Regions from separate parts of the Homo sapiens genome. Here region 2 is linked to region 1. The links come from fine-mapping of genetic effects on gene expression. Tissue or cell type: nasal epithelium. Region 1 holds a variant in brackets; the other region holds the start of a gene. All regions are shown on one strand. Distances are from middle to middle. Region 1 holds the start of GRXCR2 (glutaredoxin and cysteine rich domain containing 2). Region 2 holds the start of PRELID2 (PRELI domain containing 2).

Region 1 (4,523 bases):
CTGGCTTATTTCATTTAGTATAACGTCTTCAAGGGTCAACCACATTGTGCATGTGTCAAAATGGCCTTCCTTTTCAAGACTGAATAATATTGTGTTGTATGTACATACCGCATCTTGTTTATCCATTCATCAGTCTATGGACATTTGGGTTCTTTCCACCTTTAGGCAATTGAGAATAATGCTGCTATGAACAATGTTGTACATATATCTGTTTGAGTTCAGAGCCCTTGCTTTGAATTATTGCACTTAATTGCTACCCAATGTGGTCTCATAGCCAATATTTACTAGGAAGTGTTTTACATTTGGATTCGTTATTGAAAAGTCATGACATTAGCTCTCATTTTCTTCTTTTTCATAAATACCACATTGACAAATGATTCCAGGGTGTGCAGCTACATGAATCCATCCTGGTCACTCTCATGCTCAGAATCTGGCTATGATTGGGATGGGGCACTTGATCAGGAAACAAAGAAAACAGAGATAATGAGGCCAAGCAGGAATCAGACCTTCAACATGGCCTCTAAAACACATAGAGTACTGTGTTTTAACCAACTGAGCCATGCTGCCATGAAGACTCATTTACCTAGATTTATAAATTCTATAGTCCTAGCTACCAGAGAGGCTGAGGCAGGAGGATCCCTTGAGCCCAGGAGTTTGAGATTGCTGTGAGTTATGATCATACCACTGCACTCCAGCCTGGTTGACAGATGAGACCCTGTCTCTAAAAAAGAAAAAAAAAATTATACATTTTCATAAATGCTAAATTTAGCACATGACTTATGAAGATCAAGCAACCCAAAATTTATCTACTGTGGCCTTGCATAAGGTTTGCATGAACTGTGACTTTGTAAATTCTAAATCTACAAATAAGACATAGTTAAAAAGAAATAGTATAAGTACAAGACTAGCCAAGTGCCTAGGACCTAATAAGCACTCAACAAATGGTAGCTATTATTATTATGTAATAATATGGTTCTCTAAAAAAAGGAACATGCCCTAAAGCAAAACATTTGTAGCATCAGAAGATCTGGATTCTTATTCTGACTCTGTACCCAATGACCCTGTAGTATCAGATGGATCCCTTAACAACTTGGCACTCAATTTTTCTCTTCTGCAAAATGGGAATGACCATACTTTGGCCTTTCTCCCCAAGGTTATAGTAAAGACCCAATGCCATAGATATAGACAGAGATAGTACATGATGACACTTTGTACTGCATACGTCACCCCATTAAGATAAGAGGTCATTCATTTCAGCCCCTTTTAATATCAAAAACAAGCCTAGTGTTATCTTCGGTAATTGTGAACATGCCCATAATTATACTTTTACCAATGCCAGTAAAGCCAGTAATACATTTGTCTGCAATAGATGTGTTATCTATTCCCTTAGGAAACTAACAATAAAAATAATTCAAGAGTAATTATCTGGCTTTCACACTTTAAAGATGAGAACACATCCTGGTGTGCTATTCATTAATAACGTGGATACATTATATAATTGTATTTTATCTTTTTTAAGAAGTCATTCATGGTCCCACTGACAGCATATATACATCTCCTATGAATTTTTGGATACCAGTGTATGTTTTCCAGGTTCTACCTTAAAAGAAAATCATGTATGGACTTTTGATTATCCATGGTACTGGGAAGTAATTGAAATTCATAGATTAAACACATTCTTCAATCGAACCATTAGCTCAAACTTCTTCCTCACATAACATATCCTCTGGCTGATTTGCGTTTCACCATCCCTTCCCAGGACTCCAACTACCCAGAGCTTATGCTAAGGAGCAATGGAAAGGAAAAATAAATAGACAAAGCAGGCAGTATGAGGAAGGCAATAGGGGTAAAAAACAAGACATGGATAAACTGCAAGCTGAGTAATTGGCTGGAGTAAAATGAGCACTTTCAAATACTCAGCTCTTTCAGGAAACAAAATGACTGCATAATTGTCTAAAAC[C/T]GCAGTCTGACAACCTGAAAACCACTGCACCTCTATTTAATTTACATTCCAGGAAAACTCAGTCAAAGATCCAATTACAATGTATTACCTTGGATGGAATTTGAATACTATATATGCTCATTGCACTTTCCAATTAGTAGTCAACAAGCATGTTATTTTTACCCCAGAAATATTCGTCTAATAACAACTTCCCATTTGGTGCACCAACAGTTCTGGTTGGTACCGGAGGGGGAGCAAGACACAAATCTGAACCATTTAGGAGTTTCTCTAAACACGTTTTAGGAAGCCCTACCCTTAAAGCCTATATGCCATGCACAATACCAACCTTATGGTCATTCGCCTTGTAATCGTTGAACCGAGGCTGGCCGCCTGCCAAGGTGTAGGCATTACCCTCTCTAAACACACTGATCCTCTGAGCAGTCAGCTTAGGGGAGCACATCTGGGGCCTGGGGACTTCCCCAGACCCATAAACACCATCCATTGTTTCAAGAGACTCTTGCAGAAAACTGTGAGGGTATTCCTCCTTTGGTGACTCTAATTCCTGCCCATCCTCAAAGACCTGCTTCAATACTCGACCGCTGTAGGAGGAGGAGATTTTAAATCGTACTTTCCGGGGTTTGCCATCACTCTTCTGATTCAGCTTTTTCTCAGGGTCCTCCATCAGCAGAAAGTTGACCCTGTGGTCTCCAGCCTTCCGTGCAGCCGGTGAAACTTGGGCCTCTGAGAAAAAGGCATTTTATTTTCTCTCCTCCTGCATATAATTAATTCAAGTTGTTGCTGGGGTATGGTCAGTTTACAGCAACTGACACCCATACATTAAATATTGATAGACCCTCATGAAAAGGCAGGTGATTCTGGTTTGATGGAGTGGATGGAATATAAGACAAGATTGATTCTTCTCATAATCCCAAGCTCACCATGACTTCACCCCAACCCTAACCTTTCTTAACCTGAGGATGAAGAAGTTTATTTAGACTGAACATGTGCCAATTCAATAAGGATCAGACACTCAATTAGTTAACAAGTGTCTTCTTATTGTTAGCAATGACAATTAAAATCTAGTGAGCATTTCATAAGTACCAGAGATTGTTACATGCATTATTTTATTTCATCCTCACGATAACCCTACAAAGAAAATCTTACCTTTGTTTTACACAGGGGAAAGTGAGGCTTAGAGCCACTTGTCATTTATCTTCATCATTTGTCTGCTCTATTACACCTAAGTAAGTGACAGAGCAGGGATTTGAACCCAGATCTATCTGACTCCAAAACCCAAGATCAGCCCACACAACCAGAAGTTTTCCAGTTCTGGTTCTAGAAGAGGGAATGACGTCCTAGATACAGTGGAGGTTCTTGGAGGCTGCTGCTAAGAACAGGAGAAGGCCGAGGGTCCTGGATTCTGGGCCTTCTCCCCCTACGCTAACCAGAGCACCTCCACTTGGTATGTATTTTACATTTAAGATTTCATTTGCAATCACAGCACAAGTCCCCATTGCCTGTTGGACTTCGTAAATGCCTGACACTGAACTAGTGGCTGGAGTGAATAGCACAGAAGCATGTGACCTGGGCCTGAGAACAGTCCTACAATCCCATACAGACCTCACACAGGTGAAATAATAACCTCATGCTTAGAGAGCAAACTGCCCACAGCTGAATCCCAGAATAGCCACTCTGGGAAGGAAGTGGTCTCTAAGGAGACAAGGATGGAAGAAGGTTTGTAAAGAAAAGGGCCCTTGGGCTGGGTAGAAAATGGTAGGTTGGATGTGAGGAGCTGAAAGTGGAGTAAAGCCTTTCTCCCTGTCTTTGCTACCAGCATCACCATTTACTGAGTTACCCAAATTGACCCCTCCTATTCCCCTACAGCCATTCGCTTGGATTCTTTTTTTTTATTATTTTATTTTATTTTTTTTTTTTTGAGACGGAGTCTCACTCTGTTGCCAGGCTGGAGTGCAGTGGTACGATCTCGGCTCACTGCAACCTCCACCTCCTGAGTTCGAGCAATTCTCATGCCTCAGCCTCCCGAGTAGCTGGGACTACAGGCACACGCCACCATGCCCAGCTAATTTTTGTATTTTTAGTAGAGATGGAGTTTCACCATGTTGGCCAGGATGGTCTCAATCTCTTGACCTCGTGATCCGCCTGCCTTGACCTCCCAAAGTGCTGGGACTACAGGCATGAGCCACCGCACCCAGCCCATTCACATGGATTCTTTCACCACTGCCTTCTTTCATCTACCCCTATCACCCTGGCCCTAGGGCAAACCCTCATCACTTTGATTTTTAAAGTTGCAGCTGTCTCCCAAGGACTTCCCTACTCACCCCCAATTCCATTCTCCATATTGATGTGAGAGCAATAGTCCAAAACAACAAATCCACAGGTGTCAGTCTCTTGCTGAAAAATCTTTTCTAGTGCATCAGGGCTTAAGTCTTAACTGTTCCATGTGACAAGCAAAGCCCCTCAAAAACCAGCCTCACCTTCCTTCCTTTCCAGCCTTGCCCTCTGTCACTCTTCCAGGGGCTGCCTGGGATTGGTGTTCCAGTTACACCAACAAGCTTACCCATTT
Region 2 (4,231 bases), 37 kb before region 1:
GTTTAACAAATGACCTTCATCTTCCCAGCATCTCCCTTAGTTTGGCTTCCGGGTTGCATATGGAGTTCAATGTCCCGTGGCTGCTAACCAAGGCAAATTGCAACTGTTGCAAATTTTGCTTATGAAAACCGAAGGGGACCTTCAAAGATCATCTGGTACAACCCCTTCATCTTATAGATGTGGAAACTAAGGCCTAGAGAAAAGACCCTCAGCCAAGGTCACCCAGAGAACTAACCACGCATAGAACCAGATCAGAGTCCAGGAGTCCTGCCTCCCAGGCCTGGGCGCTTTCGATTTTTCAAAGACATTTCCCATTTTCCTATTATCAGGACCCACAATCCTAGAAACAGTCTTTGGGATTCAGGGCTCCTCAGTATTGAGGAAGAGTTCATTATCTGTATTGAAATCGGTTGTAGTAATACAAACAACAATAACATTTTAGAGCCCTAACTAAACATCAGTAGCAGTGAGAAAAAGAAAAATAGCTCAGAGCAGATTGTGTGAGTTACAGTGAAATATGCAAAATCAATCAAGCCCAGAGAGACAAGAGTATAGGACTTTAGTGGTCCCCTCCTCACCCAACCCATTCCTGGGAGCAACTGGTTAAAGGCATTTTGTTCCTGACCAGCTGCCTTACCCATTATCTTCAAGTTCCTGGAATTTGTGATACAAAGAACAATGTACAGACAATCAATAGTTTATGTTATTTTAATATAAATTCTTGGTAAACAACTTAGGAAGTGCTTCTTATTCTCCTTTAAAAACCCACTTTCGACTTCTGCTCATCAGAATGTATACTCAGGGCACCTTCACTCCCAGGATGCAGCCCTCAAACTTGGCTCGAATGAACTCTCTTTTTATATTGATTTTGCCTCAGTTTCTTCATTTAGGTCACAACTGTGCTAAGCACTTTACACAAGTTACCTCATTTGGATCCTCACAACAACTCTATGAGTCGGTACTATTATTTTCCCCATTTTACAGATTAGCAAACTAAGGCACAAAGAGAGTAAGCAACCTGCACGATGTCCCACAGCTGTTTAATAAGGAGCAGCGGATGGGGCAGCAGAACCATCATGCTGAGTAAACCAGGATGACTGCCCAATGGCCTCCCCTCGCTTTTAAGGGGTCAGTGATGAACCGGAAAGCTCCACACGTCGGTCATCTGCAACTCCACGGAGCTCACGAGCTGGGATTCCCGGAGGCTCTTCCTAAAAGGAAAGCCTCTTCTTTCAGCTGGGGCAGGTGTGAACGTGATGCCAAGCACGGCCCCTTTTCCCGCTCCCTGTAAAGGGAGTCTTCGAGGAAATCCCTCTCGACCCACACATCCCTGAAGCAAAGCCCGCAGCTGGAAAGAGACACTGGCGGTGCCAGCTTCCGCGTGGATGAAGGAGAGGAGAGAGGGGCAAGCAGCGGAGGCAGCGCGGGATACGGAAGGTGGAAGCGGGGCGGTACCTTTCGGAGAAAGCTGGCGACCACCTGCTCGAAGGGGTACTTGTACACCTGGTGCACATCCACCGAGACCCCCATCCCCGCGCGCCGCGGGCCCCGCGCACCGGCCACGCCTCCGCGAGCTCAGAGCTGCCCAGGGCTCCGCAGAGGCCCGGAGGCGCCCACACTCGGACAGCCACATGGGCGTGGCCTTTTTCCTCCGCTTTTCAAACTTTCGAAACTTTATTGGCCACTCGGAGAAACGCGCAGTCGGCCACGCCCACGCCCCTACTGCCAGAGTCCGGGGCCTGGGGTTACAGAGCGCGGGAGGCGCTGGAGCGCTCCCAGAGCACCCGGGGCCCCGCGGTCTCCACGCTGGCGGCGCCAGAGCGGCCCTGGTGCCCTCCCGCGGCCGCGCCTGCCGAGAAAAGCTTCTCTGCCTGGGAGCCATCACGCCCCGCCCCAGGAAACCTGGACCTTGGGCTTATGCGTTTATGGTATCACCGCCTGGAGTCACAGAATAAGCCGTGGTTGGCAGCACGGGAAAAAAGTATTAATAAGGAAGGCCTGGTGTGACAAAGGCCAGCATTACTCATGCCACCAGGCAGCTGCCTCTGAGGCTTGGGTTTGGGCCTCGTGTAAGGTAAAGATTGCCTCGGGAATAAGAACCGCGTTTTAGTGCACCAAAACCTGCAGGTAAGTTCCTTTGCTCGCTAAGGTTAAACACCACGGAGCAAGGAACTAGAGGATACAAAAGAGTTGCGAGTATTATTATTTACTGCAACCAACAGATGTTAGGAGAACCAGCACGTTAATCCGTGTATTCAGCACGGTTCTGAGGCCTCCTATGCCCCAGCGCTGTAGTGGGCACTGCGGATTCCGCAGGGAGGAAACACCAGCTCTGCTGATGAGCCGGCTGATTTCACACCCAATCAACAAGCTGGGAAAATAAAAACAATAATCGGTTAAAGTGACACGGGCGCGGACATGATTTTAGTGAGGGTGATTATGGAGGGTCTCTGAGGTGATGACTTTTACGATTTTGCCATCTCGCTCGCCCCTGCCATACGCAGTCACACTGGTCTGGCAAAACCCTAGCCTTGTGTAAATCTAGGTCTCCTCTGACTGTCTCTACCCAAGCCACCAGAAGGGGCTGAAGGAAAATACACACCCACTGTGCATCTTTTAAGTTCATAACCACTAACCCTATGGCGCCTTTTAATGGTGCCAGACAAATACACTATGAAAGTACTGTATTTCTGGCTGGGTGCGGTGACTCACGCCTGTAATCCCAGCACTTTGGGAGGCCAAGGTGGGCGGATCGCCTGAGGTCCGGAGTTCCAGACCAGCCTGGCCAACATGGTGAAACCCTGTCCCTACTAAAAATACAAAAATTAGCCAGGCGTGATGGCGGGCGCCTGTAGTCCCAGCTACTCCGGAGGCTGAGGCAGGAGAATCGCTTGAACCCGGGAGACGGAGGTTGCAGTGAGCAGAGCTCGCCCATTGCACTCCAGCCTAGGCGACAAGAGCAAGACTCCATCTCAAAAAAAAAAAAAAAAGAGAGTACTGAATTTCTCTAATCCACTTACTCTCCCGCATTCCTCCACACCTCTGACACCTTTGTTCCCAGCCTTATACTCCAGTCATTACCTTACTTCCATTTTCACTTAGTCAATAGGTCACATCGCTCTGCCACCTCTCTACCCACCAGACCAAATGCCTTGCCTTCACTCTTGTTCCTGTGGGTGAACTGTCAGCACTTTGTTTTAGCACCAGTGTCTCCATTTGTCCACTGAATCCTGAGGTGAACTGAAAAATGTTTAACAAATAGCTGTCCTTTAAAGTATAAATCAAGCAAGGCCCTGATTTCCAAAGGTTGCTGATTCCTGTGGTGTAAATACTCCTACCATGTTTAAAGATGCCAACTCGATGTCACTAAACACAAGTTGGGGATTTAGCAACATGGAGTTGAGTGAGGAGTGGGAGTTGGGGAGGGAAGCACAGAAGCACACCATCACATAGTATTTCCACCACCCACATACGACAGCCATAAAGAACCAAAAACATAAATAATGGAAAATGTAGCAGGAAGGGATGAGTTTTCAATGTTTATTACTCTTTGGCCAGGCTCCTATGGTTCATGCCTGTAACCTCAGCACTTTGGGAGGCCAAGGCAGAAGGATCACTTGAGGCCAAGAGTTTGAGGCCAGTGTAGGCAACATAGTGAAACCCCATCTCTACAAAAAATAAAATAAAAAATTAGCCAGGTGTGGCAGTGCACACCTGTAGTCCTAGCTACTTGAGAGGCTAAGGCCAGAGGCTCTATTAAATCCGGAAGTTCAAGGCTGTAGTGAACTATGATCGTGCCATGCACTCCAGCCTGGGCCACAGAGTGAGACCCATCTCAAATAAATAAATATTTATTAATTTTTATATGTGATTGTAAATTTATATACTTTAATAATAGCTGTGTTGAATGGCCAGCTCTAGTACATCACTAAAAGTTCCTGTCCTCTTTCTTGTTCAAGGCCATCTCTCTAGCAATATCCCCCTTCCTTTCTGTATCATCAGCTTTTGTCTCTACTGGGCCATTCCAGCCAGCACAACAAGTACACTGTAATTTCTTCCATCTAAAAACAAAAACAGAAACAATACAAAAAAAACAACTCTTAACCCCCTATCTTCCTCCAGCTGTATTCCGAGTCTCTGGTCCACTGATGCTCCTCAAAAGAGCTGCCTGTAATCTCTTGAGCCCATTCCAATCAGTATTTGCCCCCACCACTTCACCGAAACGACTGTT

The links. PIP is the estimated chance that this variant, and not a neighbour inherited with it, causes the effect. A credible set is the group of variants that fine-mapping cannot tell apart.
Region 2: it holds the start of PRELID2, and the variant in region 1 is the best candidate, but not a certain one, in a credible set for the expression of PRELID2 in nasal epithelium (TOPMed, PIP 0.59).

What each region holds. Positions count from the first base shown.
Region 1 is chr5:145,870,348-145,874,870 of GRCh38, forward strand. GRXCR2 (glutaredoxin and cysteine rich domain containing 2) reads right to left here and starts at 2,667. Exons shown (of 3, transcript NM_001080516.2): 1 at 2,286-2,667. The coding sequence starts at 2,621. The variant C/T (reference allele first, on the strand shown) is at 1,961.
Region 2 is chr5:145,833,722-145,837,952 of GRCh38, forward strand. PRELID2 (PRELI domain containing 2) reads right to left here and starts at 1,621. Exons shown (of 7, transcript NM_205846.3): 1 at 1,456-1,621. The coding sequence starts at 1,530. RefSeq lists a silencer at 1,813-1,932.